Regions from separate parts of the Homo sapiens genome. Here regions 1, 2 and 3 are each linked to region 4. Evidence: fine-mapped QTL for protein levels in blood plasma. A gene starts in region 4. Each other region holds a variant in brackets. All regions are shown on one strand. Distances are from middle to middle. Region 1 holds the start of HSPA12B (heat shock protein family A (Hsp70) member 12B). Region 2 overlaps SIGLEC1 (sialic acid binding Ig like lectin 1). Region 3 has its middle 7.3 kb from the start of HSPA12B. Region 4 holds the start of SIGLEC1 (sialic acid binding Ig like lectin 1).

The links. PIP is the chance, under the fine-mapping model, that this variant and not a neighbour inherited with it causes the effect. The UK Biobank Pharma Proteomics Project read protein levels with antibody pairs (Olink). The fine-mapping took linkage between variants from a reference panel, not from the people measured, so its PIPs are less certain.
Region 1: its variant is fine-mapped to the plasma level of the SIGLEC1 protein (UK Biobank, PIP above 0.99).
Region 2: its variant is fine-mapped to the plasma level of the SIGLEC1 protein (UK Biobank, PIP above 0.99). The variant lies in the coding sequence of SIGLEC1. If it changes the protein, the assay may bind it differently, which can mimic a change of level.
Region 3: its variant is fine-mapped to the plasma level of the SIGLEC1 protein (UK Biobank, PIP above 0.99).

Annotation. Positions count from the first base shown.
Region 1 is chr20:3,730,609-3,738,541 of GRCh38, forward strand. It overlaps HSPA12B (heat shock protein family A (Hsp70) member 12B), which reads left to right and starts at 2,077. Exons shown (of 13, transcript NM_052970.5): 1 at 2,077-2,186. RefSeq lists an enhancer at 2,139-2,718. The variant C/T (reference allele first, on the strand shown) is at 3,514.
Region 2 is chr20:3,687,201-3,695,133 of GRCh38, forward strand. SIGLEC1 (sialic acid binding Ig like lectin 1) reads right to left here. Exons shown (of 22, transcript NM_023068.4): 12 at 7,463-7,723; 13 at 7,021-7,332; 14 at 6,247-6,498; 15 at 5,662-5,931; 16 at 5,321-5,572; 17 at 4,703-5,002; 18 at 4,140-4,400; 19 at 2,762-3,064; 20 at 2,400-2,502; 21 at 1,955-2,027; 22 at 1-1,419. The coding sequence ends at 1,360. Among named protein-coding and RNA genes, the nearest start is that of ADAM33, 9.2 kb to the left of the region's middle. The variant C/T (reference allele first, on the strand shown) is at 4,199.
Region 3 is chr20:3,721,392-3,729,324 of GRCh38, forward strand. No RefSeq gene overlaps it. Among named protein-coding and RNA genes, the nearest start is that of HSPA12B, 7.3 kb to the right of the region's middle. The variant G/C (reference allele first, on the strand shown) is at 3,077.
Region 4 is chr20:3,708,864-3,716,796 of GRCh38, forward strand. SIGLEC1 (sialic acid binding Ig like lectin 1) reads right to left here and starts at 3,737. Exons shown (of 22, transcript NM_023068.4): 1 at 3,607-3,737. RefSeq lists a silencer at 7,608-7,667.

The DNA of each region.
Region 1 (7,933 bases), 22 kb after region 4:
GGAAGGAGGGAGCTTCCAAACAGGAAGGTTTGGAGGGCGCTGGCACTGAGGACAGGGGATACGCCCCCCATGAGTCTTCACCCCTGCTCAGAGCCTGCTGCCGTGGCCCTCAGAGACGAGCCCATCTTTGGAGCTGGAGTTGGGGACAGGGAAACCAGGTGGAAGGGAAAAAGAAAAAAGGGGCAGGCATGAGTGTGAGGGGCCAGACCCTGCAGACCCCAGGACATGCACAGCAGACACACACTCCAATCCCTCCTGGCTCTGCTCAGCCTCAAACGAGGTGCAGGCCTGCAGGCCCCAACCAAGGACCCCTGTTACACACAGACACAAAGACACAAGATGCAGCAACACACACACGTAATACAGAAACACAGTCACACACTAGCGCACACACAGACACAGTCAGACAATCCAAGAAACACACTCACACATGAACAGACATATAAGCAAAGTCTTACACATACAAAGACACACTTAAGCACAGACACAAACACACCAACAGATGCACAGACGGACACACATAGACGCACACTGGGAGGCGGCCTGTGGAGACTGCTGATTGGATACCATGTTGGCTTGGTATCCAGAATTGTTGGTGCAGCGCACTCACCATGCCTGACCTCATTAAGGAGGCCCTCTGGGGCAGTGGCTCTGAGAAGAAAGGCAGCAAGCCTAGGGAGGTGACACTGTAGCTGGGGAGCATTTTGGCTGGGCAGAGAGGAGGAAGGAGAGCATTTCAGGGAGGGAAAATAGCCCTTGCAAAGGTTTGGAGTGGAAGAGCAAAAGGGATGTCCCAAGAACTGTGCCTCATTTGATGGGGCTGTGGGGCCCTTCTCTGACGGGCAGCCTTCCCAGGCACAAAGGGAGGTGGACTGAGAAGCATCTGGAACTTCTGTGGGGGCACATGGGGCAGAGGGGAAGGGGAACAGGCAGAACGAGTCAGCTGCCTTTGAAAGCTCCACGAGGGACCTAGCAGAAATTCATTCATTCATCCGTTCATTCATTTATTTATGACAGGTTCTCTCTCTGTCACCCAAGCTGGAGTGCGGTGGTGTGATCACACTTACTGCAGCCTCAAACTCTTGGGCTCAAGCAATCCTCCACCCCAGCCTCCTGAGTACCTAGGACTACAGACGTGAGCTACTACACCTGGCTAATTTTTAAAACTTTTTAGAGACAGGGTCTCCCTTTGTTGCCCAGGCTGGTCTTTGTTGCCCAGCCAGCTTCAAGCCATCCTCCCACCTCAGACTCCCAAAGCGCTGGATTACAGGCATGAGCCACGGGTTCCCAGCCCAGAAAGAGACCTTCACCCCACAAACCCCCTGTCTGGAGGCCAAGTCCCAGCATCCCCAGAAGGGCCCCGGTTAGGACAAGAAAAAGGCTGTGTGCCTCGGAGGAGAGGCTGGGTGCCCCCTGGTGCGGAGTGGTCCCCTTGCCGGGCATGGGGCCTCAGTCTGTGAGACTCCGCGCCTCCGTCGTCTGAACTTGAGCAAAGACAGAGCTAGGCCTAGCCTGGGGACCCGAGGGCCTGCCCTCATCCGCAATTCTGCCTCTTTTCTGGCCACTGAGGACCGGGCTAGGGAAGCTGTAGGGGCAGTAGGGGTGGGAGGAGAGAGGGTTCCGGGTCAAGGGACTGGAGGGGTCTGGGGCAGGGAAGTGGAGGGGTCTAGGGCGGGCCCTTCCCCCTCCGCTGTTGGGCCCTCGCTGAAGGGGCCGAGGCTGAGCCCCAAGGTGGGCCTGTGGGGGCGGGGCGGGGGAGCCCCTCAGCAGCTGGACCGCAGGAGGCCGACCAGGGTCTGGAACTCCTCTTCCCCTCCCTCCGCCGCCCCCTCTCCCTTCTCCCACCCCCTGGGCTGCTAGGGGAGCGGGGGAGGCGCAGGAGGGGCTCAGGGAGGGGCCCTGGACGCGGGACCAGGCTGGGCCCCTCGGCGGAGGCCCGCGCAGGCAGGCCCCGCCCCGGCCTCGCACATCTGGGCCGGGAGCGCGGGCCGACCCGGCGGCGCAGGCGGCGCGGCCATCCGGCCTGGGGGAGGGGGCGGCGGGCGGGGTGGGCGGCGCGAGGAGGCGGGAGGCCTCAGGGCCGGGCGCACGTCGAGGGCTGCGGCCGCCGCAGCGGGCACGGCCAACGAGCTGCGGGCCCGGGATCGCGGCGGCTGGACGGGGCTGGAGCTGTCGGGAGGGCGGAGGTGAGTTCTGGGGCGGGGGCTGCCGGGCGCCCCGAGTGGAGAAAGGCGAGGAGGTTTGCCGTCCCGGGCTGTCGGCTGAGACCCCACCAAAAACCTCCAGACTTTGTCTGGTGGGGACAGATCTGCAAGCCCCTCTCTGCAGCGTGGCTGCGGGCTCGGGAAGGCACTTGGGGCAGCGACCTTGGTCTCCCACCTGGGCTTCGGGGGACCACCTCCCCTGTCCCTCGCACAGCTGCTCAGAGGCTTAGGCTGGAGAAACTCCTGTGTCTTAGGGGCTGGCAGGACTGGTGTGGGCTGGGGCCTGCTCCAGGGAGCCAAACTGAGGGACCCGGTGCCTAGGTCTGAGGTGGAAACCTGGGAGTTGAGTGTATGTGTGTGTGTTGGGGGGTGCCTCAGGGGTCCCAGGCCCTGTGGTCCCGAAGCGCAACAGAGTACTGAGTGGCCCAGGTGCCAGGGTCTGAGGCTGGGACCTGGTCTTCCGGGCCAGCTTGAGGTCCAGGTGGGGTGGGGTCCAGGTTCCCGCTAGGGCAGTGGAGCCTATCTGTGAGGTTAGCGTGTGTTGATGAGAGAGACTGGAAGGGAGTGATCACGAAACTAGGGACCCTCCGGAGAGCAGACGCAGCGCAGGAATCCCAGGCCAGAGGGGTAATGGGGGGCTGTGGGCAGAGCATGGGAGGGGCTCTGTTGTTTGTGAACTGGCTGCTCCCATGATGAGGACCCAAGGGGGTGCGGCAGGATGTATGGAAAGCAAAGATGAGGACAGGGAGGGGCCATGGGAGGCCATTTCTGTCACTCCCTGCCCCAGCGCAGGATGGGGCAGCCACCTCACTCAGCCACACATGGTCCCATCTTCTTAAGGGCTCCTCTCCAGAACAGAGTGGGGCAGCCCTTTGGGTGCCGTTTCTGATCTGTGCTTTGGGCCCTGGTTGGCCCAGTCTGTGGCTTGGAAGAAACGCCTGTGGCCTCACTTAGCCCGCTGACGGAGTCCTGTTCCATTACAGGGCTGGCTGGGTGCTGAGCAGAGAGCAGCAGGCGGAAGAGGCAGGGTCCTAGTGAGGAGGGGAGCTGGAATGACCTGGGTGGGCTCTTTGTCTACACAGGCATCGTGTGGAGCCCTGAAACCCAGAACACTGCATTCCCATAGTGCTCCTGGGGACATGAGCGCCCAGCTGAAACACCCCACACAGGAAGAGATCCTCCGAGGATTCTGTCAGGCAAAGGGTTGGGCCCCTGCAAGGTGGCTCACGCCTGTAATCCCAGCACTTTGGGAGGATGAAGTGGGAGGATCGCTTGAGGCCAGGTGGTCGAGGCTGCAGTGAGCCGTGAT[C/T]GTGCCACTGCACTCCAGCCTAGGCAACAGAGCAAGACCCTGTCTCAAAAAAAGGAGCGGGAGTGGGGGCAGGGTTCGTCCTAGGCTATTGTAAGACCAGGGGATACTCTGGGATGGGAGTCTCTGGTTGTGAGTTCCTGCTGGGCCACACCCTATCCTGGTCCCCAGTGACTAATCGGCCCTGCCTATTGGGTAGAAGTCAGGGCCAGGGGTCAGGGTGAAGCTGATGACTAGAGGTCAATATGAAGCCAAGAGTTAGGGGTCAGTCCATGGGCAGGGTTAGGGATCAGGCTGGGGCCAGAGTTTGGCATGTGCTTGTAGCCAGGAAATGGAGTTCCTTTCTGTGTAAATCAAACTGTCCCACTCAATTACTCTCAAACCCATAGGCACCACCAGTCTGAAATTAGTAGGCCCCTGAAGCGGGGCTCAGCCTCCCCTCATTTTCAGCTGTGGACTCTGCCCAGACCTAGCTTTCGGGAGCTGGGCTTGTCCCGTGTTCTGTGGTCAGCACTCTCCTTAAGTGTCCCTGGGTGTGTGTGCTCGCTTGGCAGTCAGCCACCTCTTGGCTTACCTCCACCTCTCGGGGAATCCGTGGGATCCTCCTTCTTTAACACAATTTTTTTTTTTTTTTTTTTGGAGACAGGGTCTCACTCTGTCACCCAGGCTGGAGTGCAGTGGTGTGATCATGACTTACTGCAGCCTCAACCTTCCGGGCTCAAGCAATTCTCCCACCTCAGCGTCCAAAGTGGCTGGGACTCTAGGCATGCACTACCACGCTGGGCTAATATTTGTATTTTTCGTAGAGATGGGGTTTTGCTGTTGCCCAGGCTGGTCTCGAACTCCTGAGCTCAAGCAATCCACCCACTTTGACCTCCCAAAGTGCTAGAATTACAGGCATGAGCCACCACACCCAGCCCTTAACACAGATTGATTTAGTTCCTACCTCCTTCCTTAAAGAACTCATGATGACTAGAATGCGATTCTCAGTAAGACCAAAATATCTAACAAGAAAATTCAGAATCTGCATCATGAAGGGAAAGAACACTGCTCAAACCTGCCCAACTCCCTGCTTTTATCAATACCTTGCATATCTGGACTTGTTAACATAAGCCCTCTGTGTCACCCATTCTACAGGAAAGGGCACTGAGGCACAGAGATGTGGCATGATGCACTCACGCTAGGTGCCATAATAGGCTCTTGCCATCCCTGAAACCCCAGCATAGGGGCACTCAGCATATCGCACAATGAGAGACGGTAGATAACTGGACAAGCTTCCGATAGCTGGGAAGAGTATAGGCCCATGGTTTGGATGTGGAATCCAGTGTAGAGCGAGGACTCAGTCTTTTTTTTTTTTTTTTCTTGAGATGGGGTCTCACTCTTCTCGCCCAGGCTGGAGTGCAATGGCGCGATCTTGGCTCACTGCAACCTCTGCTTCCCAGGTTCAAACGATTCTCCTGCCTCAGCCTCCTGAGTAGCTGGAATTACAGGCGTCTGCCACTACGCTTGGCTAATTTTTGTATTTTTAGTAGAGACAAGGTTTCACCATGTTGGCCAGGCTGGTCTCGAATTCCTGACCTCAGGTGATCCACCTGCCTCAGCCTCTGAAAGTGCTGGGATTACAGGAGTGAGCCACGGCGCCCGGCCCAGAGTCTTTTTTTTCTGGTGGTTCTAGGTTGTTTCTCCTCCAGATACAATAGCCTCGGTCCAGAAAATCCATTCATTCATTCAACAAAGTGGTTCCCCAGTGCTTAGCACAGAGCCTGGCATGAAGAATCTCGATAAGTGTTTGCTGAAGAATCAGAACAACATACAAATAAGGCTGCCAGCTCCTCCCTCGAGACCTTGATCCAGTAGTATGCTGGTTAATGGTTTCCAATCAGCTCTGGAAGAAGGATAAAATCCTGATTTATGGTGTTTGCCAATTTCTGTCTTGTAAATACTCCCAGCCATGACTGATTTGAAGCTACCAATGTGATGTCATTGAATGCAGAATTGGGAAGAGATAGAAAGAATCAGCTCGCATGAGCTGGTGGGACCCAGCTCAGCATCCCACTCCATCATCCTGAGCTGGGCTCTGGGCTCCTGCCCCTGGCTCCTAAGAACCCTCCCCTCCCCCTCTCTGTGCTTTCCCTTTTCTCCTCAACAGCCAGCTGCTATATGCATGCCCACAACCAGCACCCATCCTTCTTCTGATTCTGATTCCTGAGCATCCAACTCCAATGGTACAGAGGACAGCAAGAGTGTCTGGAAATCTCCATGGTGCTGGCCATGCAGGAGAATCCTGGACATACAAGAGTGTGTGGGAGTCCAGGTGTCTGTCCACAATGGGGCTGGTTTGTGTGAACTGTGTGAGCAAGGGTGTGTGCATGTGTCTATGGGCATGCCAGAGCCAGCTCTGTGTCTGCCTGTGTTCTATAGCAAAACTTTCAGATTGGGCCGCTGGTGACAGAGAAGGAATGCATTGGCCCTGCGTAGCCTCCTCCTTTGTTTAGAGGAGCAGCCAGGCCCACCAATGAGAACATAGTGTCAGTGGTCTGCAGACTGGCTGAGAGACACTGTTGAGCAACACTTCTCAAACTTCAATGTGCACCTGAATCACCTGGGAATCTTGTTAAAATAGGCCAGACGCGGTGGCTTACGCCTGTAATCCCAGCACTTTGGGAGGCTGAGACGGGCGGATCACCTGAGGCCAGGAGTTCGAGACCAGCCTGGCCAATATGGTGAAACCCCGACTCTACTAAAAATACAAAAATTAGCCAGGCATTTTTAGGTGGCATTTTAGGCAAATTAGGTGGCGCATGCCTGTGGCCCCAGCTACTTGGGAGGCTGAGGCAGGATAATCACTTGAACCCAGGAGATGGAGATTGCAGTGAGCTGAGAACTGAGATCACGCCACTGCACTCCAGCCTGGGGGACAGAGTGAGACTCTGCCTCAAAAATAAATAAATAAATAAATAAATAAATAAATAAATAAATAAATAAATATGAAATACATGTTCTGATTCAGCAGGTCTGGGCTGGGGCCTGAGGTTCTGCATTTCTAACAAGCTTCCAGGTGATACCAATGCTGCTGATCCTCAGCCCACACTTTGAGTAACAAAGCTGTTGATGGTTTGAAATATCCTGCCTATAGCCTGGCCCCAGAACTTCATAGACAGGATCGAGCCCCTCCCATCTTAGAAAATAAATATTCTTCCTCACCTCCCTTCAGCTTTAGCGCCCTCCAACTACTGCCCTCACATGTATTCCTGATTTCAGCCAAGCTTTTCAGAAATTCTAGCTCAATATGATTGCGTCACTACACTCCAGCCTGGGCAACAGAGTGAAACTCCATCTTAAGAAAAGAAGTTCTAGCTCATGTCACCTCTTGCTCACTCCTCACCTAAGCTTACCTCCCTTGGGCCACTAAAACAGTGTTTCCAGTCTCATCTGGGGACCTTTTACAGGGATCTAGCTTTACCCATCTCTTGGTACAATCTTCATGAGACCATGAGGCATCTCAGTCTCCTGGGCCGGTATATATTCCTCTGTTCAGCCTTTAAATGTAGGTTCTCCTCGTGACAGAGTGACACCCTATCTCAAAACAAACAAACAACGAAGGCCAGGCACGGTGGCTCATGCCTGTAATCCCAGCACTTTGAGAGGCCGAGGTGGGCGGATCACCTGAGGTCAGGAGTTCGAGAACAGCCTGGCCAACACGGCGAAACCCCGTCTCTACTAAAAATACAAAAATTAGCTGGGCATGGAGGCACTCACCTGTAATCCCAGCTACTGAGGAGGCTGAGGTAGGAGAATGGCTTGAACCTGGGAGGCAGAGGTTGCAGTGAGCCAAGATCGTGCCACTGCATTCCAGCCTGGGCAACAGAGTGAGACCCTGTCTCAGAAAAAAGAAAAGACAAATTGAGTCATGCCCCCACCCCACCCTGCCACCTCAAACCTTTCAAGATTTGCTGTTGCCCTTCATATAAAATCAAATCTGAAATAGGGTGCACAGGCCCTGCCTGCAGGGTAAGCCCAGCCCAGCCCTCTGTCCAGACTTACCATGTCCTCTTCCCACCCCGCATTATCCAACTTTGACCTTCCTAGCACTCAGCAACGCTTGTCATTTCAAAATCACTTGCCTGATTATCTCCTCCATCAGACCGTTGGTTTCTAGGGCAGGGACAGTGTCTCTCTGGGTCACTATCTCCCAGCACCTGGCACAGAGCAGGCACCAGAAAACATTTAGGAGGATCCTGATTCCAAGAAAGTAAAGCCATTTTTTGACACAAGCTGGGAACTGTGGGACTTTAGATGAGATTTAAGGAATTACTGTTAATTTCATTAGACATGAGAATGGTGTTGCGATGACATTGTTTAAAACGTCTTTATCTGTTGGAGAGATGTATTAAAGAGTTCACGGGTGAAACAACATGATGGC
Region 2 (7,933 bases), 22 kb before region 4:
CACACCATCTCCACCAGGCTGCAGGGGGAGTCACTAGCCCACTCAAGAGCTCTCTCCTGTTGGTCCCTGATTCGCAGGGGCACGTCATTCCTTCTTGGTAACTCATTCTCTTTAACAGCCCGACACAGGGTCTCCAGGAAAAGGACAGGAGCTCACACAGTCATGAACAGAGATGCATCTGGAGCAGGAATAAGGATGCTGACAACATCTGTGTCTGCCCTCCACTCTTGTAAGGGCCAGTAAGGTAGTACCCAGTCCCTGGGGGTAGGGGGGGTGGTGGTGGGAATGAGGGCATCTCTTCTTTCAGGGGCCAAATCTGGCACAAGGATGTCTGCTTAGGCAACTCCACTGCCTGGCATGCTCTCTCCCTAGGAAAACACCAAACCTTTTTTATTTCCTCAGTCTTAGTGTGAGAGTGATCACCTCTTCCAGGAAGCCCACAACCAGAATGGCCAGGGGCACACCCTGGCCCTCAGTAGATGGGCACTGAGACAAAACATGGCCTGCTGGTGGCATTCCCAACAATGTCAAAAGTCTCAGGGATGAGCTCACAGTTGGGAGTCCTTTGGAAGTCCAATTCCAAATGTCCTCTGGACTCAAAATAAAAACTACATTTCCCAGTCTCCCTTGTAGCTTGCAGTAGCCATGTGACAATACTCCAGCCAATGGGAAGTGAGTGGAAAAGTCCTGTGCAGCTTCTGAGTTGCGTCCACCATGGGCATGGGTGTGCTTCTACCTCCACTCTTCCTTCTTCTGGCTGGAGGGCATGTGGACAAAGCGGGGCCATGGTGAGCCTCACAATCAAAGGCATCATTTTAGGGATAGAGAAAAGGAAGATAGAAGGATCCTGAGCCCCAACATCATAAACCATCGTAACAGCCAGACTAGCGTGGGAGAGAAAAATAAAATTCTATCATGTTGAAGTCACTGTATTTGGTCTCTTGTTAGAGCAGGCTGACTGATACTCTGTTGAATACAGAATGCCTTGGTGAGCCTCTGAGGATGCAGGATGCTGCAATCCAACCAAAGTCCAGGGTGACTTTCGAGGAGAAGGATGTGAAAGGGCAGGGCTTCCTTTGAGGGAGAAATGGAGAGAAGGGAGGAGATCCAGAGAAGAGAGAGCGAGATCAGCTCAGTGCTCTTCAGTGTCCTCCAGGGTCAACACCCTCCTGGGCAGACCTCTCACCACCCATTTTTGGGGGGGCAAGAGGCTTGGGGCCAGGTCATAAAAAGTCAGATGTCACAGAGCTGTTTTCGTAGAGGCGGGCAGGACTCAACACTGCCTCATTCACATTCATAGGCTGGAGTCATCACAGATTCTGGCCACTTTCTCCTCCGGAGGGCAGGCAACACCACTGGTCAGCCCAGGGGTGGGGCACAGGTTGAGGTCTCACATGTGGCTGCATCAGGATCAATGAGCTTCCCACAGAGAAAACCCTGGTCACAGGAGGCCTCTGGGAGCCAGGGCAGGCCCCCAGGCCCCCAGCCTCAGGTGGGGTCCCAAGAGGATTGGTGGGAGTGTGCATGGCTGGAAGTGTGACTTGGAGCCCTGGCCTACCAGGTGAATCAGCTGCAGAAGGGACACACCACAGGGGAGGAGAAACTGACTTTCACTTCTGCCCAGGTGACGGGCAGGCTTGGGAGTGGGGAAGAGGCCTCAGAACAAAGGTGGGGGAGTCAGAACATACGTGTCTTGGAAATGGAGGGGATGCTGCCAAGTCCAGAAAGTCTCCCCTAGTCCTCTAAGCCAGCCGCCAGCTGACACAGGGATTCCCTCTGCCCCGAGCAGAACAGGGCTCTCCTATCTCCTGAGGGGCTCCTGGTTCCCTGCACACTCTCCCCAACCTCCCCTTGGTCCCAGGCACCATCCTCTAAATGACAGCAGTCTCCAGATGCCAGTTGGCACTGTGGGTTAGCTGGGTATTATATCTGCCCGTGTGTGTTGAATGGATACCTGCGTGGTCTCTTTCTGAAAAGCCATCTCCACCGAATTCTCGCCCATGCTCTGCTTACAAACACGCCTCCTTCTGCAAGGCCCGGAGTGGACTCAGAGAGCCTCTCCCCTCCCCACCTCCTGCCCCCATTCCTCTCCCGCTCCCCACAGGCTGGCTCCAGACCACAAGAGCGTGGGAACCTCATGGAGAGTGGGTGCTTCCTCTGTCTTCCTCCCTAGCCCTTGCTTTAGCACAGCCAGGGCAGAGAGGAGGAAAGAAGGAAACTACAGCAAGGAGGATTTAGGGACAATTCTAGAAGGGATTTCCAATTTGGAGGGGCAGTCTGGGAAGTAGGCAGCCTGTGAACTTAATAGGAGGTCCTAAAGGACCTGGGGGAATTTGGGGAGAAGACGAGGTGGGCTGCCTTACCCCAATCTTCTGGCCCACTCCCAGCTCCAGACCCACCTCCAGGTGTAGCAGGCCCCCAGGCCCAACAGCAGGAGCAGGAGGCCCACCAGCAGTCCCAGGACCCAGAGCAGCTGCTGGAACTGATGCAGGCGGTGCAGGGCTGGAACACAGAGCGGGACTCAGAGCAGCCACAGCTGCAGGCCCCCAGTGCTTCCTTCCAAGGGGACCCACCCAAGATGACACCTTCTAACTTTTGCTTTATCGCTGAAGCTCTCCACACAAGGGTGCCCCGAGCAATCAGTTTAGAGTCGACAGGCAAATCATGCTGCAGCAGGAGGGATACAGGGAAGGAAGCCTTTGGGCCTAAGAGCTGGGCTTTTGTGCAGAGTGGCCTGGGAGATGGAGCCCCCTCCCCTCACCTCTGACCCCAAAGTAGGTGGAGGTAGAGGCAGAGCCCAGGACATTTGAGGCAGAACAGATGTATTCCCCTTGGTCGCTGGGCCTCAGCGCCTCGATGTCCACCCTCAGGGCATTGGGGGAAGCCAGGACATGGATGTGTGGCTCTGCAGGAGCACCCTGGGGCTGACTGGAGGCCACCAGTCGACTGCCAAGGTGGAGAGTCAGGCTGGCGAGCGGCTCGCTGTCCACTCGGCAATCCAGGATGCCCCGGAGGCCACCCTCAGGCTCCACGAAGACCATCATGGTGGGCGTCTTGGGAGGGTCTGTGGGGAGGAAGGGAGTGTGGTGATTGCAGACAATGACCACAAATTTCTCCCTCCCTGTACCCATGCACAGTGACTTTGCTGCTCCTCCCATTAAGAGGCAGAACCTATTTCCTCACTCCTTGAATCTGTGACTCAGTTTGACCAATTGAAGAAAGAAGTGATGTTGTGCAACTTCAGAGCCAGACCTCAAGAGGCCTTGTAGCTTCTGCTCTACTTGTTGGAACACAACAATGTGGGAAGCCCAGGCCAGCCTGCTGGGCACATGTGGCCCAACTGGCAGCCAGGAGCGTGCAGTCATCTGAGACCACTGGGCAACTGCAGCCACATGAGGTGTGAACAACAGAAGAACTCCCCAGCTGAGCCCAGCCCACAGAATTGAGCAGATAACATGACTTTTGTTTGAAGCAGTAAGTTTTGTTGTGGTCAATAGCAATAGCTGACTGATACAGTGTAGGCCTTGGTGAAGGCTGGAGTGGGAGACCAAGACTGATGAGGGCTTATCGTGTGCCAGACACACTCAGCACGCTTTATTTCTTTTGGTTTTTTCTCTTCTTTTCTTTTCTTTTTTTTTTTTTTTTCTTGAGACAGAGTCTCAGTCTGTCACCCAGGCTGGAGTGCGTTGTGGTGATCTTGGCTCACTGCAACCTCCACCTCCCAGGCTCAAGTGAGTCTCCTGCCTCAGCCTCCTGAATAGCTGGGATTACAGGTGTGTGCCTTCATGCCGTGCTAATTCTTGTATTTTTAGTAGAGACGGAGTTTCGCCATATTGACCAGGCTAGTCTTGAACTCCTGACCTCAAGTGATCCGCCCACCTCAGCCTCTCAAAGTGCTGGGATTACAGGCATAAGCCCCTGCACCAGCCATTTATTTCTTATACAACTTGCAGGATGAGGCGAATGATGTATTCCCCATTTTACAAGGTCACCCAACCAGACAGCGGGAGAGCCAGGATTCCAACCCAGGACTCAATATCCGTGAAGCCTTCACTCTTGGCAGACAGAAGAGGAGGAAGAACTGAGGTGGGCGTGTGAGATGTGGGGAGACTAAGGCGGAGGAGGGGGTTCACACTCACAGAGCACACGGAGCATGACTGGAGCAGAGGCAGCAGCCCCAGTGGGGAGCTCAGCCAGG[C/T]AGTGGTACATCCCAGCTTGAGCACGAGCCACGTGGGTGAAGGCGAGAGTGGGCACAGGCTCCGCGTGCAGCCGCCGGTCATTCCAGAACCATGCAAAGGTGGAGTTGCCCACAGGCCCAGGGCCACCCAGGAGGCGGCAGCTGAGGTTCAGGGCAGCGCCCTCAGGCACGTCCAGGCCAGGCTCTGCCACCACGCGTGCACCTGCGGGCGGAGGATAGAGAGATGATTGGGGATCTGTAGGCCTTGGGGGCTGGAGCCTCTGGGTGGGACCTCTGAGGGGCCTCTGCACATTGTGGGAAGGTCTCAGTCTGACTTGGTATAGGGCTTTCCAAGGTGGAACCATGCCCCCTCCAGTGGGAGCTGTGCCCCCTCCACCAGATTAGGCTTCTCAAGGCAGAGCTTTCTCAGACCAGACAGCCCGCTCTAGTGGGAGCTCCAGCCCCTCTCGTGGACTTGGACCTGAGAGCATCAGAGCCCCTCCTCCTCCCCTCTCTTCCACTCACCTTCTACCTGCAACCGCCCGATGGTGCTGATTGAGCCCAGCAAGTTTTGGGCTGTGCAAACATAGGTGTCATCACCTGCAGGCACATCTTGCACCTGCAGCCGTAGGGCGTTTCGGGCCACCTGGACATGGCCTGTCCCTGATGCCAAGCTGTGGACCCCGCTGCTCGTGGCCAGCACCTTGCCATCATGAGATAGGGCCAGCTCAGCAGGTGGCTCACTGTCCACAGTGCACTGTATCACAGCCATGGATCTGGCCCTGGAGTCCCGGAAGGAGGACAGGACAGCGTCCTGAGGGGCATCTGTGGGCAGGCAGGGCACAGATGGGGACCTTGCTTAGGCACCCTGTACTGCTCATTGCCTAGCTGCCTGGGGTTGGTCAGGCTGAGGCCTCTGGACCAATGGCCACTTCCTAGAAGTGACACCTTCCCAGGAGTCCTGTGGGCAGAGTGCTCCAGGCAGGGCTTATAGGACTGTCTCTTTCTCTAGCACCTATGTCCTCTTTCCCCAACTGCCCATTCCTGGGCCCACTGCAGTCCTTTGCCCACTCCCACCAGAGCCCAGAAGCACCCTCCACCACCCTCCTCCTGGGCAGCCCTGGCCAAGGACCCTCTGCTCACAGAGGACTTGCAGGGCAGCAGGACGGGAGCTGCGGGTGCCCTGGGCATCCTGGGCCTGGCAAGAGTAGGCGCCTGCATGAGCCCGCGTGGCCACCAGGAATGAGAGTGAGGCAGCTGGACCCTCCTGCAGCCAACGACCGTTGTGGTACCAAGTATAGAGTGTGGGTGCGTGGGCAGCAGGGTCCGCACAGGTCACTGTGATGGGGGCACCTTCAGGCACGGCAGCCTCCGGAGCCAGGATCACCCGCACACCTGTGCCAAGGAGGCCAGGATCAGCCGGGCCCAGCCGGACACCACAGTGGGCTTCCATCCCAGTGGGCTTGGCCTAGGCCCTGCCTTACCCTCCAGCCGCAGCTCCAGGGACGTGTTGGCCTGGCCCAGAGGGCTGCGGGCAGAGCAGCTGTAGAAACCCTCATCCCTGGGCTGTGGCCCTCGCAGCTCCAGGCGCAGGGTGTTGGGGACAGAGGCTGCTGTCGAGGAGGCCAAGAGGCGACCGGCGTGGCTGAGGGCCAGCTGGGCGGGCGGGCGGCTGTCCACAGTGCACAGTACCAGGGCCAGCTGCCCGCCATGGCTCTCCAGGAGGTAGGTCAGGCGCAGGTTGCGGGGCGCGTCTGCAGGGCATGAGAGGCTTACACGGAGTCACAGGCAGCAGCCTGCAGGAGGCCAGTTTGCAGGTGGCATTCAAACTCAGGAGGGCCCTGGCTCCCCACCCCTATGGCTCCCAACCACCCAGTCTGAGGCACTGCTCCTCTGCCCAGACAGGACTCACCCCAGCGCCCCCTACTCTTAATGCTCCTTGCCCAGTGCTCCACTAGCTACTGGGTACCGAGTTCCCCACTGGACACCTGTCGGGTTCCGGCCATGCCGTGATCCCTGTGGGCTTCTGTCATTCCTGTGAGTCCCACCCTGCATCCAGCCAGACTCACAGAGGACGTCCAAGGTGATAGGTCTGGAGAGGCGGGGTGCCCGACCAGGGGGGCCCACACCGCAGCGGTAGGAGGTGGCATCCCTGACTGTGACGTTGGGCAGGGGGATGGAGTGGGCATCCAGGCGCTGCTGCCCATCCTGGTACCATGTGTAGGTGAGCTGGGCCGGGTGAGTGGTCCACACAAGGCAGGTCAGGTTCACCAGCTGCCCCTCCCGCACGGTAGCCCCGGGCCACACCTGCACATTCACAGCTGGGGAGAGGGAGGGCACAGGACACCAGTGAGGGTCTTGAGGCTGTGTACAGCAGGCCACCTGTCTCCATGTGGGTGAGCTACTCCTACTGCTGGGGAGCCCCTTGGCCTTTGGGAGCCTTGGGTGGCCCACCTATAAATGTGGCTTAGAAGTCAAGCTTGGGAATAGCCCACTGGCTCCTGAGTGGTCCCAAGTAGAGTTCCACAGAGTCCTGGAAAGCCCTGAGCCCCTCCCTGACCCTGGCTGGGGGCAAATGGGGAGACCACAGACCTCCCCTCCCCTGCTGCACTTTCTCCTGAAATTCCCTGTTTAGTTTTATCCACTGGGCATACTTGTAAAATTTGGTGTTTATAAAAGGTTCTCCTAAGAAACTCAAGTCTGGAGTCCACCATCGTTAGGAAGGGTGGGAATGGGGACTATTCCCGTGCCCCCAGGCTTCTAGAACCCTGTCCCACCTCCTCTCCTCTTTTAAAGGACACACACACACACACACACACACACACACACACACACACACTGACCTTGAGCGTCGAAGTCAGCTGAGGCCGAGGCCTGGCCCAGGGTGTTGGAGGCCTCACAGATATAGACACCCTCATCCTCCAGCATAGCCCCGTGGATCTCCAGACGCAGTGTGTTGGGGGCCACAGCCACATGCAGCCTGGGAGAGCTGCCTTCGGGTCCCCCCACACCTTGTAGGGTGGAGGCCACAAGGCGATCCCCGTGGAGCAGCCGCAGCTGGGCCGGAGGGTCACTGTCCACACGGCACAGGAGGAGGCCCAGTCGTCCAGGGCCTGTGTCCATCAGGGTAGTGAGTGTGACGTGGCGTGGGGCATCTACACAGGGTGGGGAGTGGTCAGGACCCAGCCAGGGGGGTCCCTCATCCAGGGCTCTGTCATGTGACACAGCCCAGGACTGGGGGACTGCATTCCTTCCCCCACACCTGGATGGGACAAAAGTCCTTACAGGACACGTGGAGGCTGATGGGTGCAGCTAGGCTCGTGGTGGCTGAGCCTGGGGCCTGGGCTTGGCAATGATAGGCCCCAGCTTGTGTCAAAGTTATGGCTGCAAAGCGGAGCGTGGCCGAGGTCGACTCCTGGAGGGGCTGGCCATCCCGATACCAACGATATGAGGTCCCCTCTGGGACTCCTGTGTGTACCTGGCAGCTCAGGACCACAGCCTGGCCCTCTTGGAGCTCAGGTGATGGTGACACCTGGACCCAGGCTCCTGCAGGGGAAAACCAAGAGCAGGTGAGGGCTCTCCACCACACCTCTCACAGTCTGGGACCATGTGCGTGTCCACCTAGGACTACACAACCCAACCCCATGTGCTGGAGCCGCAGCCCCTTCCAGACCACCGCCAGGGCCCACTCAGCCCTATGCCTTGGCCCCTCCTGCTCCCCACTCTCCTGCACAGGCTCCATCCTGGCATTTACCT
Region 3 (7,933 bases), 13 kb after region 4:
AGGGCTCAAGAAATTCTTTCTAAAATTGATGTATGAGGAACGAAATTTTAAATATAGATTGTTTAGAACTATAAGTAGCACCAACACAGGACTCCAGTAATCACACAGCAAACAAAACTGAGAAAACAGACATGGGCGGGGAGATGGGAATGGGTGATTTCCATTCCCTGCTTTAATGATGAGGTGTCAGTAGATGCTCTCTTGAGTTACTAAATTGAGAAACAAAGATAAAGTATATTGTTTAGAGGAGTGATGTTCAAACTCCAGAAAAGGCTGGGCGCGGTGGCTCATACCTGTAATCCTGGCACTTTGGGAGGCCGAGGTGGGCAGATCACTTAAGCCCAGGAGTTTGAGACCAGCCTAGGCAACATGATGAAGCCCTATCTCTACTAAAAAAAAAAAAAATACAAAAAATTAGCAAAGCATGGTGGTGCACACCTGTAGTCCCAGTTATTCAGGATCTCACTACTGTACTCCAGCCTGGGTAATGAGAGTGAGACCCTCTCTCAAAAAAAAAAAAAAAAAAAGAAGAAGAAGAAGAAAACTCCAGAATATATAAAAATGAAAAGAGGGCGGAAGAGTGGAACTGCGGGGTAGAAAATTTTGCATTTTGTTTCATCTCTCTGTATATGTTGAACTTTTTTTTTAACCTACATGTACTACGTCATATCCACAGCCCCCAACCATCCACCAGGCATCAACTGCTGTGTTTATATGGAGGGTTGAGCAATCATTCCTGCCTCCTTCCAGTTCGTCTTCCTGTACTGCAGAGGCTAGAAAACTAAATTTATATCACCCAGATTCCCTTCCAGCTACCTTAATGCTACCACCTCATTCAGCCATCATTGATTCTCCACTTCACCAAACTGGTCAATAATTGTCTCTTCTAAAAATATTAGAATTGGGACTAAGAGACACTACAGCTGACCCTTAAACAACATGGGTTTGAACTGTGCTAGTCTGCTTATACACAGATTTTTAAAAAAATAAACATATTGAAAAAAATTTTGGAGAGATGTGACAATTTGAAAAAACTCACAAACCACATAGCTAGAAATATCAAAAAAAAAAAAACTGAAACAGAGTTAGGTAGGTCAGGAATGCATAAATATATATGTTAATTGGCTGTTTATATTATTAGTAGGGCTTCCAGTCAACAGAAGGCTATTAGTAATTAAGTATTTGAGTCAAAAGTTATACACAGATTTTTGATGATGAGGAGGATTAGTGCCCCCAACCCCCATGTTGTTCAAGGGTTAGCTATATTTGAAATCTGCTGGTAGCTGGAATTGGGCAACTAAATTCACGAGATGTGGAACGGTCGTATACATGGAGAATAAATAAATAAATAAATAAATAAATAAGTATTTGTTGGCCTGGTGCAGTGGCTCATACCTGTAATCCCAACACTTTGGGAGGCCAAGGCAGGCAGATGACTTGAGGTCAGGAGTTCGAGACCAGCCTGGCCAACATGGTGAAATACCGTCTCTACTAAAAATACAAAAATCAGCTGGGCGTGGTGGTGTGCACCTGTAATCCCAGCTGCTTGGGAGGCTGAGGGATGAGAATTGCTTGAACCTGGGAGTCAGAGGTTGCAGTGAGCCGAGATTGCACCACTGCACTCCAGCCTGGGCGAAAGAGTGGGACTCTGTCTCAACAACAACAACAAAAAAGCAATTGTTAAAAGAATAAGAAAACAAGCCACAGATTGGGAGAATATATTTGCAAAACAAATATCTGATGACCCAAAATACACAAAGAACTCTTAAAACCCAACACTAAGAAATCAAACAACCCCATTAAAAAATGGACAAACGGGCCAGGCATGGTGGCGGTGGCTCACATCTGTAATGCCAGCACTTTGGGAGGCCGAGCAGGGCAGATCACCTTAGGTCAGGAGTTCTCAACTAGCCTGGCCAACATAGTGAAACCGTCTCTACTGAAAATACAAAAATTAGCCGACCGTGGTGACGTGCATCTGTGGTCCCAGCTACTTGGGTGTCTGCGGCAGGAAAATAGCTTGAACCAGGGAGGTTGCAATGAGCTAAGATCGCGCCACTGCACTCCAGCCTGGGCAACACAGTGAGACTCCGTCTCAAAAAAAAAAAATGGGCAAAAGATGTGAACAGACACCTCATCAAAGAAGATATACAGATGGAAGATAAGCATATGAAAATATGCTTAACCTGATGTCATTAAGGAATTACAAATTGAAGCAACAAGGTACCACTAAACCCCTATTAAAATGGTCAAAATCCAGAATGCTAAAAACACCAAATGCTGGTGAGGATGTGGAGTGACAGGACTCTCATTCGTTGCTGGTGGAAATGTAAAATGGTATGGCCATTTTTAAGACAGTTTGGCAGTTTCTTACAAAACTAAACATAGTCTTACCATACAATCTAACAATTACACTCCTAGATAGTTACCCAATTGAGGTGAAAACTTATATCCAGGGCCGAGCACAGTGGCTCACACCTGTAATCCCATCACTTTGGGAGGCCAAAGAGGAAGGATTGCTTGAGGCCAGGAGTTCTTTCTTTTTATTTATTTATTTATTTATTTTCTTTTGAGACAGAGTTTCGCTCTGTCACCCAGGCTGGAGTGCAGTGGAGTGATCTCATCTCACTGCAATCTCTGCCTCCCGGCTTCAAGCGATTCTCCTGTCTCGGCCTCTGAGTAGCTGCTGGGATTACAGGTGCACGCCACCATGCCCAGCTAATTTTTATATTTTTAGTAGAGACAGGGTTTCACCATGTCAGCTAGACTGGTCTTGAACTCCTGACCTCAAGTGACCTGCCTGCCTCGGTCTCCCAAAGTGCTGGGATTACAGGTGTGAGCTACTGTGCTCAGCCAAGGCCAGGAGTTCCAGACCAGTCCTGGCAACACAGTGATACTCTGTCTCTACAAAAAAAAATTTTTTTAATTAGTCACATGTGGTGGCACACACTTGTAGTGTCAGCTACTGGGGAGGCTGAGGCTGAGGATCACTTGAGCCCCAGGAGTTTGAGGTTGCAGTGAGCCACGATTATGCCTCTGCACTCCAGCGTGGGCAACAGAGTAAGAGAAAGAAAGA[G/C]AGAGAGAGAGAGAGAGAGAGGAAGGAAGGAAGGAAGGAGAAAAGAAACGAAAAGAAAAGAAGGAAGGAAGGGAAGGAAGGGAGGGAAGGAAGGGAGGAAGGAAGGAAGAAAGAAAGAAAGGAAAGAAATAAAAAAGGAAAAGAAAAGAGAGAGAGAAACCTTATATCCATACAAAACCCTGCGCAAGAATGTTTATAGCTGCTTTATTCATAATTGCCAAAAACTGGAAGCAACTAAGAAGCTCTCCAATGGGTGAAAGGATAAACAAACTGTGGTATATCTGTGCAATGGAGTATCATTAAGTAATAAAAAGAAGACTTAGCAAACCACAAAAAGTAATATGCATACTAAATATGCATTTAGTAATATTAATATGCATTAAGCAATAAAAAAAGACGTGTCAAGCCACAAAAAGTAATATCCATATTACTAAATGAAAGAAGCCAGTCTGAAAAGGCTACGTGCTGTGTGATTTCAACTATTTGACTTTCTGGAAAAGGCAAAACTACAGACAGTAAAAAGATCAAGGGTTGCCGGGGGTTCTGGGGACAGGAAAGGATGAATAGGTGGAGCACGGGAATTTTAGGTCAGTGATATTATTCTATATGATACTATAATGGTGGATCCATGATATGCTTTTGTCAAAACCCATAGAAAGTACAACACAAAGAGTGATTCTTAATGTAAACTATGTGCTTTAGTCAACAATGTATTGATATTAGTTCATTAATTTTAACAATGTACCACACTAATCCAAGATGTTAATAATGGGGAAACTGCGTGTGAGGGAGGGGATACATGGGAACTCTGTACTACAGCTCAATAATTTTATAAATCTAAAACTTTTTTTTTAAATAAAGTCTCTTAGAAAACAATAAAAATAAAATAAAAAGTCAATTTTTTTTTTTTTTTTGAGAGGGAATCTTGCTCTGTCACCCAGGCTGGAGTGCAGTGGCACAATCTCTGCTCACTGCAACCTCTGCCTCCTTAGTTCAAGCGATTCTCCTGCCTCTACCTCCCAGGTTCAATCAATTCTCCCACCTCAGCCTCCCAAGTAGCTGGGACTACAGGCATGCGCCACCACGCCTGGCTAATGTTTGTATTTTTAGTAGAGATGGGGTTTCGCCATGTTGGCCAGGCTGGTCAAGAACTCCTGACCTCAGGTGATCCGCCCGCCTCAGCCTTTCAAAGTGCTGGGATTACAGGGTTGAACCACATGCCTGGTCTAAAATGTCCATTTTTAAAAGGCAGTCTGGCTGGGGCAGTGGCTCACGCCTGTAATCCCAGCACCATGGGAGAAGGCTGAGCAGGGTGTATCTCTTGAGCCCAGGAGTTCGAGGCTGTAGTGTGCTATGATGGTGCCACTGCACTCCAGCCTGGGTGACAGAGTGAGACTCTGTCTCTAAAATAAATAAATAAAAATACAATAAAATTTTAAAAGGCAATCTGCAGCAAGAGAAGATGAAGTTAGCAGGAGAGCAGGACAGAGGAGAGTCCATGAACAACAGGGAGAGGAAAGTGGTCATGGTGGCAGCTCCCAGGCTCCTGGCATATGTTCAATTCCCTGTTCCCAGCCCTCAGGAAGCCCAGATGTCCCCACCTGCCCCTACATACAAACCCTGGATCCTTGACATCAACTTCTCCTTTCCTTCATGTGCTCTAATGAGTTTTTGTTACTTGTGGAACATTTAACTAACATCATTAACCAAGTGGACCTGTCTCAGAGTGGTGTTATGAGAAGACAGCAGCCAAAAGACAGCTGCAGCCAAGCACAGTGGCTCATGCCTGTAATCCTAGCATTTTGGGAGGCCGAGGTGGGTGGATCACCTGAGGTCAGGAGTTCGAGACCAGCATGGCCAACATGGCGAAACCCCCTCTCCACTAAAAATATAAAAATTAGCCGGGTGTGGTGGCGAGCGCCTATAATCCCAGCTACTTGGGAGGTTGAGGCAGGAGAATTGCTTGAACCCAGGGGGCAGAGGTGGCAGTGAGCCGGGATCATGCCACTTCACTCCAGCCTGGGTGAAAGAGCAAAACTCTGTCTCAAAAAAAAAAAAAAAAAAAGACAGCTGCAACAAATGTCAAGTTCTGTGTGTTTTCTTTTCTTTTCTTTTTTTTCTATTTAATTAATTTATTTTAGAGTCAGAGCCTCCCTATGTCACCCAGGCTGGAGTGCAGTGGCACAGTCACAGCTCACTGTAGCCTCAACCTCCTGGGCTCAGGCGATCCTTCCACCTCAGCCTCCTTCCTAGCTGGGACTACAGGTGTGTGCCACGACATCTGGCTTGTGTGTTTTCTTTTCTTTTTTTTTGAGACGGAGTCTTGCTCTGCCACCCAGGCTGGAGTGCAGTGGCGCGATCTTGGCTCACTGCAACCTCTGCCTCCTGGGCTCAAGCAATTCTCCTGCCTCCGCCTCCTGAGTAGCTGGGAATACAGGCGCACACCACCATGCCCAGCTAATTTTTGTATTTTTAGTAGAGACGGGGTTTCACCATGTTGGCCAGGATGGTCTCGATCTCCTGACCTTGTGATCCACCTGACTCGGCATCCCAAAGTGCTGGGATTACAGGCGTGAGCCACTGCACCCTGCCTGGCTTGCATGTTTTCTGACATACTGTCAAAAGGATACTCATACTAAATGGCAACACATTCTCAAGCCCCTTCCTTTTCTTCTCCTATCTGCTTTACCACACACCATAGCTGCTTTTACCGTTTTCTCCTTAAAAACTCAAAAAAACCTTCCCCCAACCTATCTATCCACTTCTTGTCCTCCCCTCAAACCCACTCCATTTTGATTCTGCATCATAAAAACCAAGCAGAGTTCTGGGGAGGCAGAAGCCTCCTCTTATGATATTGGAAGGGGGTGGATGAAATTGAGCACACAAAGCCAGAATCCTCTTTTGTGGAAAGATGGGGGCAGTGGGCAGAGGGAAGCAGGCTCATCTCTTTCCCTCTCTTCCCTTCCCTTCTCTTTCACACCACACGCTCCGCCTGGGTGAGCTCATCGTCCTCGTGTCTTCAATTTCCACCTCCAGGAGATCGACTGCCAAATTTCTACCCGCAATCCCAAACTCCACTCTGAGCTCCAGACCCATCTACTAATTGCCTAGTCAACATTTTCTCTGTGGGATCGAATCAGATAGGATTATATTCTGCTGTGACTAACAGAGACTGAAAATTCAGAGTCCTAAACAAAAGACTTTCTTTTTCTTGTGCTGAAAAGTCTGGAAGTACACAGCCCTAGGCTGGAATAGGGATACTGCTGGGGGGCTCCGCCTCCTTGCAGGCTGCCCCTCTGCTATCTCCAGGGTGTGTCCCTCAACCACACTGTCCAAAGTGGTGACTGAAGGACCAGTCCTCCCACTGACATTCCAGGCAACAGAATGGAGAAGAACAGGCTGAGGAAGGAGGAACCACAGGCGCCCTCCAGCTGTTTCAAGGAAGGTTCCTGGAAGATGCTAAATAACAATTCCGTTTATATCTCATTAGCCAGGCTTAGTCACGTGGCAACACCTAGAAGCAAGAAAGGCTGGGAAATATACTGTTTCTGCTGGGTTACCGTATGCATGACTAAAAAGAGAGCGCTCTGTTCTTAGGAAAATGAGAATAGACTGGGTTGGGGGAGGATAACCAGCATTGGCTACACTGCAGCCCCACAACCTCCTCATGCTTGATGTGGCTGAAATAAAAAGAGCATCTCCCCCTAACATTTCCTTTCCCTTAGTCTTGTTCCTTTTCTGTACCCCATACCCTAGCAGAGGGGCAATTCTGTGGGGTGGGCTCACTGGCAAGGGGAGGTCTCACCCAAGCTCAGTCAAGGGTGAGCAGAGAGAATTGTACAAGGAAGCTGAATTTCCAGCTGGTCTGGAGGAAACACTGAAAACCCCAAACAGAAGATGTCCAGGTGGAGCAAATGCAGCTGAGAGTTCTTGTCCAAGGGGACAGAATGTCAGCAGAGTAGGACACAAGGGCAGGTCTCTACTGAAAGCACCAGGGGCAAAGTCACCCAGCCCTTCAACCGGCTGGCCACCAAGCACATCGGCTCCACTCTGCCTCCTGCCCGTGCCACCCTTTGCACTTTTGTCTGTACCATCTCCTCCACCAGGAGTGCCCTTCCCGCTCCTCCATGTGGTATACTCTCAGCCACCCCTCAGGCTCAGATCCAGAGCCACCTCCTCCAAGAAGTCTCCACCTGTCTGCTGGGAACCCTCACATCACACTGGGAGACGAAGCCAAAAGTGGGGGGGTCAGTACAGAGGTGTGGGAGGTAGGTCCAATCCTGGCTGGACCTGGCTTTGGGTGCCATTTGGGACAGGGTATTGGGGAGGTTCAGCAGGAAGGTGGGACCTCAAGGCTTTCTTTTTATGAAGGAGGAGGAACCAGCTGTTGACAGAGCAGCAACAGCAGGGAGCCACCAAGGCTGAGCCTTGAACCCTGGGCCACCAGGCTCCTGCAGGCAACTGGGAGCAGCTCAGCCTCTCACAGTCCCATTTCCAGGGAGGAAGATGATGCAGCCTGAGGCAATTGGCCACCTGGAGGAAGTTCAGCTGGGTGGGGCAGGCAGAGGAATTCCTGGAAGGAAGCTCACCCCTCAGCACTGGGGTAGAGGGACACTAGAGACAGGGGTGGCCCAGGAGCTGCCCACCTCCTATCCCCATGAATAAGCAGGTGGGCCCGGGTGACCAGCTGGGAGCCACCCCTGGGTGCTCAGGTACCATGCTTCTGGCCCAGCCTCCTGAGCTGTGGCACAGGCAAGAGCACCGGCCCACGGGGTCTGCATGGGGCAGTGACCTGTTCTCTCTAAGCTTCAGCTTTCTCATCTGTAGAAAGAGGGTGAAGAGTCCTTCCCCACCATG
Region 4 (7,933 bases):
GGTGAAACCCCGTCTCTACTAAAAATACAAAATTAGCTGGGTGTGGTGGTGTGCACCTCTAGTCCTAGCTACTCGGGAGGCTGAGGCAGGAGAATCACCTGAACCCAGGAGGCGGAGGTCACGGTGAGCCAGGATCACGCCACTGTACTCCAGCCTGGTGACAGAGTGAGACTCTTCTGTCTCAAAAAAAAAAAAAAAAAAAAAGGATATGAATCAAAGGACACTATCCAGAGAGTGAATAAAAGGAGGACAACCCACAGAATGGGAGAAAATATTTGTAAATCATTTATCTGATAAAGGACTAATATCCAGAATATATAAAGAATTCCTACAATGAACAACAACAACCACCAAAAAAACCATGAAATCCAACTCCAAAAATGGGCAAAACACTTGAATAAACATTTCTTCAAAGAAGATATATAACTGGCTGATAAGGACATGAAAAGATGCTCAACATCACTAGGCATTAGGAAATGCAAATCAAAACCAAACCACAGTGAGATACCACTTCACATCCGTTAGAATGGCTATTCACAAACAAACAAAGCAACACAGAAAACAATAAATATTGGTGAGGATGCGAAGTTGAAATTCTTGTGTATTGCTGGTGGGAATATAAAATGGTTCCGTCACTGTGGAAAACAATTGGGTCATTCCTCAAAAAGTCAACATAGGATTACCATATGATCCAGCAATTCCACTCCTAGGTATATACCCAAAAGTACTGAAAACAGGGACTCTAACAGAGTACACCAATGTTCACGGCAGCACTATTCCACTAAAAGGTGGAAACAGGTCAAGTGTCCATCAGTGAATGGATGTGGATAAACAAACTGTGGTATGTACATACAATGGAATATCAATCGGCCATAAGGAGGAATGAATTCTAACATATGTGAACCTTGAAAACATTATGCTCAGTGAAACCAGCCAGACACAAAAGGGCAAATATTGTAGGGTTCCAATTACATGAAATATCTAGACTACGTATATTCAGAGACTGAAAGTAGAATAGGATAGAGGTAACCAGGGGCTGCAGGGAGGGGGAGCTAATGTTTAATGATTGCTGAGTCTCTCAGATAATGAAAAAGTTCTGGAAATAGTGGTGATGGTTACACAATATTGCAAATGTACCTAATGTCATGGGGTGTACACTTAAAGACAGTTAAAACAGTAAATTTTACATTATGTATATTTCACCACATACACACCCATGTTGCCAACTTTGCAATCCTCCCTGGTCCTAAATGCTGACTTGGCCAAGTGAACGAGGAGGCTGGAAGTGGGGACAGGAAACTCATGACCTCCCAGCTCCCAGCCCATCCGCCTCAGGGGCTGGGCTCAGCAGATTCCAATGACTACCAGGGGTCACACCTGGGAAGGGGGTGAGCCGAGGCCCAGGGCCAGTCAGGCTGACCAGGTGGGACTTAGCCTGCTGCAGAAGGCAGAAGGTGCCCCAGCAGGGGGCACAGTACAGGGCGGGATTGGGACAGGAAGGACACCGCTCCCCAGGGGACCCAGCCCTCTCGCAGGCTGCTGGAGTGGACTGATCTGGCCATTTATGGAGGCCCAAGGGCTCATCTCCAGTTCTCTAGGAAGCCCTAGGCCTCCTCCTCTTCTGGGAAGATGCACCCCCAGCCTCCACACCAGGTTCTTGGCCACTGGAGAATGATATAGCTGGGGCCCTGGGACCTGGACACCTCACCGTGAAGAAAAGCAGCCTGCTGGGCACACTGGGGGTCAGATGTGTCCCTGGCCACAGGGGATGTCAGGGTCAGCTCTGCTATGGCCAGGGCAGCTATCTTGTCCCAGCTCCCCTGTTCCTCCCATTTGGGGTCCTGAAAAGGGCAATCGTGAACCTGATGGAAGAATGGTGGGGTTCTGGACACAGCGACCCTGGAACAGGGCGCGGGGGAGGACCCTTTCCAGGACCACTCCCATCACATAATGTAGAGGCCACCTATGCTTAGCCCGGCCCTAACCCCAAAGGGGTCAGCCCCACCGGAATCCAGCCTATTGGCTCAGCCTGTCACCACAAAGGCCAGCTTCAGCCCAGATAACTGTTCTGGAAACAGAAAGAGCAGGGACCGCTCAGAAAGGAGATCTCTGTCCCTGTTTGAAAGCCTGGAGTTGAGGGGACAGTGCCCCGCCCCCCGCCCCCCGCAACTTGGGTTGCAGCTGTGGCCTAGTGAGCACGCAGCGCCCCCTGGTGGTCGAGGGGGAATTGCGGGTCCCGGGAAAGGGGGCGGTGTGCCAGCAACAGGGAGCAGGCAGCTCTGCAGCCCTGAACCATCCCTCCCTTGGGTGACTCTTTTGGAAATCATTGTTCCCCAGACAGGAGGTTCCTGAGGTTCATACTTGGGTCTCCAAGTCTTGGGTGCTCTGAAGACAGGATTTTAAATCCCCACTCCTACTATTGGTATGTGTTGCATCAGGGTGGCTTGAGCTGGCCTGGTACACAGTGGGCACTCACGTTTGCTGCCTGTTTGAGACCAAGTGCCTCAGGAGGTCTTGGAGGGTTGGCTGGGGCCCCAAGTCCCTGACCTCTGATTCCAGAGGCCAAGTTTAGCTGGGGAAGAAAGGGCAGAGGCAGTTTCCCTATGGACAGCTAGGCCCGGGTGTAGGATTCAGTTTCTGTTTCCTGACACCAAGGCTTCTCCCCAACTTCCCCATTGGGCTAGAGAAGGAAGAACACAGGGTGACATGGCCAGCTGGAGGTTACTGGCCCACAGATAGGGAGTCAGGGTACGGATGGGCAATTCCTGGAGCAGATTATGGTCAAAATAGTGGAAATCCCCAATCACAGGCCAAATGTTTAATTCTCAGAGCCATAGAATCCATAACTAATGCTTATTGGCTTTGACATGGGCAGTAGAAATTTCACACTTCATTCCTTAATCTGGCTCTAAATGCTTCTGGCTGGAGTGCTCACTCTCCAAACTGTGCTGGACAGCACCAGAAGCCCTCCTGTGGACGGACGAAGTGGTGATGGATGAAGTGGAATTGTGCTGGGGTTAGAGTAAGGAGAGATTATCGTTGGGCTGGGCTGGGGCTGAGGTCAGGGTGATGATCAGGTTGGAATTCTGGAAGCAAATTAAGGCTGGGATTGGGGTGGACATTGAGGTTGAGTGATGGGTGGGGGTAAGGGTGAAGGTTGGAGTTGGGTGCAGGTGATGGTTAAGATACGGTGGAGGCTGGGTTGAGATGAGGATGATAGAGTCGGAGTTGTGGTTAGGGTTGGGATGATGGATGGTTGGGATTAGATGAGATGAGTAAATGGTTAGGGTTGGGGTGCAAGTGAGGTGAGGGTGAGATAAGGTTGGAATAGGGGCTGGGGCTGGGGCTGAGGTAGGGTCAGAGCAGGGTGATGGTCGGGACTGGGATTGGGATGCAGGTTGGAAGGATTTGGGGGTGGTGGAAGGGTTTCAGTTGAGTCCATCTTTGATTAGTGTCTTGGACTTGGGTTGGTTTGGGGTCCACCACTCGCACCCAGATGGAGCCCCCCCCCGACCCCTGCCCCTATCCCGCTCAGCCAGTTTCAGCCCAGCCCCGCTCCTAATGCTCCACTCACCCTCTGGGCCCAGGGACCAGGGACAGGGGTACCTGCTCCACAGAAGGAAGTGGCTGCGGCGGTGCTGGACCTGCGGAGAGGAGAACAGGAAGGACGGCCAAGAGCTCCTGGTGCAGCTGGCTCCCCAGGGCTCTGCCGGCTCAAGAGAGAAGGATCCCGTATCAGGGGCTGCTTCCTCTTTCCCAAAGCCTCAGCTCTACTGTCCAACCCAGAGGCTGGTCAGGGAGGCAGCTGCAGGCCTTGCGCAATGCCAAAACGGGAAAGACCTCCATAGGGGAAGGCCCTCGGCAAGGCCAGGGACTTAGGGACTCCAGCAAGCAGAAGTGGGACCGCTGCAACGCTGGAGCCTCCCCAGGCAAAGTGAGAAATGGAGTGGGGGACTCCCATTCACCAGCCAAATCCACACCCCACTCTCTCTGAGCCCCTTAGGGAGGCTGGGGGAGGTGGAAGGGGGCTTCCTGCACACAGCTCTCCTCCCTGACACCTGAGAGGGAGGCGCGCCCAGCCTGGGGTGGGGATGCACTACACGATGCCCAGACCAAGGCAGTTATTCTCCAAGCCATTCAGGAGCCTCCCTGTACCACTGAGTACTCTTAAGAACCCCCAAGAGGCAGTCCCGTGTTGTGGGGGACATAAGGCCCCAATGTCCAGGACACTCCTCAGGTTTTCTCTTTCCCCTCTCACTGTCCTGTACGTTTTTTGGTTTTTGGCTTCTTGTTGTTGGTTTTTTTCTTTTTGTTTTGTTTTTGCTTTTGAGATGGAGTCTCACTCTGTCGTCCAGGCTGGAGTGCGGTGGCACAATCTCAGCTCACGGCAACCTCCACCTCCCGAGTTCAAGTGATCATCTTGCCTCAGCCTCTCGAGTAGCTGGGATTACAGGCATGCACCACCACATCCGGCTAATTTTTGTATTTTTGGTAGAGACGGGGTTTCACCATGTTGTCCAGGTTGGTCTTGAACTCCTGACCCCAAGTAATCTGCCTGCCTCGGCCTCCCAAAGTTCTGGGATTACAGAGGTGAGCCGCTGCACCCGGCCACTATCCTATACCTTCACCCCCACCTTGGGACAGGAAAGGAAAGCCCCCACCACAGCTAGTTACTGTTACATTACTGCAGCCCATCTTATTGAGGGCCTAGTTTGTGCAGGCACTTGACATGTGAAGCAGATGTTAATTGCTCCAAGCAATCCCAGATACAAGCAACAAGACTTTTTTTGGTTTTTGTTTGTTTGTTTGTTTTTGTTTTTTGAGACAGTGTCTTGCTCTGTCGCCCAGGCTGGGGTGTCCTGGTGCAATCTTGGCTCACTTTGGCTCACTGCAGCTTCGAAATTCTAGGCTTAAGCAATCCTCCTGCTTCAGCCTCCTAAGAAGCCGGGATTACAGGCGCTTGCCACTATGCACGGCTAATTTTTTAAGTTATTTTGTAGAGACGGAGTCTCCCTATGTTCCCAGGCTGGTCTCAAACACCTGGGCTCAAGTGACTCTCCCACCTCGACCTCCCAAAGTGCTGGAACTACAGGCGTAAGCCACCACTCCTGGCCATTTTTTTTTTTAATTTCACAACTCAAACTTAATTCAACTCAGTCCCTGCCTACCTGTACTGGTGGGGAGCTGGCCACAGCAAATTAGGCCCCTGTACCCTGAGGGCAAGGCCACGTGTGCAGGTGTAAAAGGATGTGAAACCCTAAATCAGGGTGGATCCAGAATCGCAGGCCATGGTGCCCCAAAGCAGATGTCTGGTGACATTCCACCCTGAAATGCTCAGGCTACAGAGATATTAGGTCTCTATCACTCTGTTCCTCTTTATAGCTCCTGTGTCCACTCCTATGCTTGGGCCATTTCCTCTTTCGGCCAAAACACAAAGGGTTCATCCCATTACTTCCTCCCTCAACAGCTGGTCCGGAGACACCCAGCTCTAGGCCTGTGGGGTTGTGACACATGGGTACCAATCCTTCAGTCCACTGGGACTCTATACATCCACCCCTTGGCTTCATGGTGGGAAAGCATCCCTTGACTTTGACCTTAGTCATATGACTTGCTCTGGCCAATGGATGTGCACGGACATGACACAAACTAAGTCTTGAAACGTACTTAAGCAGTTTGCCTTTCCCCCTGAATTTCTGTCATTGCCATGCAAGGGGCAGGCTCCAACTAACCTGCTGGTCCAAAGAGGATGACGAACACATGCAGATGACCTGAATCAGACCCATGGATTGAAACAAAACTCAGCTGAGCCCAGCCTACGTCCACCAGACCAGTCAACCTGTGGATGCGTGAATTTATTGCTGGATGCTGCTGAGAATTTTGTGGCTACATTAGCAAGATGATACAAGGCCTAAGTCCCAGAACAACACACCCAGAACTTGCTTACCTTTCCTTAGCATGAGGAGAGCAAAGACTTGTCTACCTTGATTAGTCAGGGAGCACTGCTTCCTGTCATTTCCTTGAGTATACAGCAAACTAGGTAAATAAATAAAAATAACTAGGTAGGCTGGGCACGGTGGCTCACGCCTGTAATCTCAGCACTTTAGGAGGCCGAGGTGGGCAGATCGCTTGAGGCCAGGAGTTCAAGACCAGCCTGGTCAACGTGGCGAAACCCTGTCTCTACGAAAAATACAAAAATTAGCTGGGCCTGGTGGCAGGCGCCTGTAGTCTCAGCTACTCAGGAGGCTGAGGCACGAGAATCGATTGAACCCGGGAGGTGGAGATTGCAGTGAGCCGAGATCACACTACTGCACTCCAGCCTGGATGACAGAGCGAGACTCTGCCTCAAAATATTTTAAAAAATGTAATTTCTCAGTAGGTCACACTGTTACACATTCATCTAATAACAATTATTCTTTTTCTTTTTTTTTTTTTTTTTTGGAGATAGGGTCTCACTGTCACCCAGGCTGGACAGGCTGGAGTGCAATGGCACAATCTCGGCTCACTGCAACTTTGACCTCCTAGGCTCAAGTGATCCTCCTGCCTCAGCCTCCCAAGTTGCTGGGACTACAGGTGAGTACCACCAGACGCAGCCAATTTTTGTATTTTTTTGTAGAGATGGGGCTTCACCATGTTGCCCAGGCTGGTCTCACACTCCTGAGAGTTCCCAGTCAAGTGATCCACCCACCTTGGCCTCCCAAAGTGCTGGGATTACAGGTATGAGCCACCATACCCAGTGAATTATTCTCGTTCCAGATAGGAAAACCAAGTCATAGGGAGGTTAGAGAATTTGCCAAAGACAAAACTTTTTGGTTGAAAAAAAATAAGTTTTGCTACAAGTATAGAAAACACCAAATAACGGTGTTTTAAATAAAATAGAAGTGTTTCACCCTCTCCCTCAAGTAAGTGTTGGCATCCAAGATGATATGACAACTCCACAATCATGAAACTAGATCCCTTTTTATTTTTTGGCTCAGTCATTGTCAATGGGCTGCTTCCAGTCATTGTCCAAAGTGGCTGCTTGCGCTCCAGCCACTGTATCTGCATTCGGGAAAGCAGGATGGAGGAAAGGACAAAGTAGGCCATGCCCTCTACTTTAAGATAACTCCTTAAATTGCTGATGTGGTGGGTCACTCCTGCAATACCAGCCACTCAGGAGGCTGAAGCAGGAGGTTCACTTGAACCCAGGAGCTTGAGGCTGCAGTGAACTATAATTGTGTCACTGCATTCCAGCCTGAGTGACAGAGTGAGATCTTGTCTCTTAACAACAACAAAAAAGGTAATTCTTTAAATTGTACACTTTATTGCTGCTTATATTCCACTAGAAGCTAGAAGTTAGTCACATGGTCTTAAGTCTTTATTCTAACAGGTGATGTGCCCGAGTGAATCCTGGGGGCCCAGTGCTAAGAAGTAGAGGGAGATGAAGCCCTGCCCTCCTGTGGAGCAACCAGGACCTTAATTCAGTCATTCATTCCTTGGACCTACCCAGATTCCAGCCTCAGGCCCCTGCCCACCTCCTTGCCAGTATCTCTGCAGAGCCTCCTGCCTCCCCCAGAGGGTGCCAGAGCCCTCTGCTTCCTCAGCCTTCAGACCCACTTGCTGTGTCTCAGGTGGGGACAACTCAGTCTATAGAGGCCCAAGGGAGATCTTTGAGACCCATACTGTAGTCAGCTTGGGGCAGATGGGAGTCATGTAGCTCACTGGCTAAAAGCCTAGGTCCTGCATAGAGCTGGGTTCAAATCCAGGCATATCCATCACCTGCTCTACGATCCCAGGAGTCACTCAATGACTCAGAAGCTAGAGTCCTCTGGAAAGCTTGTATGAAGAGTTCCCAGGGCCTGGAACATCAAAAGAGCTCTGAGAATGTTGGCTCTGCTGTTGCTTCTCTTATTGGGTATCTGAAGGCCGTACTCTCCTCTCTCCTCCACCCGAGGTG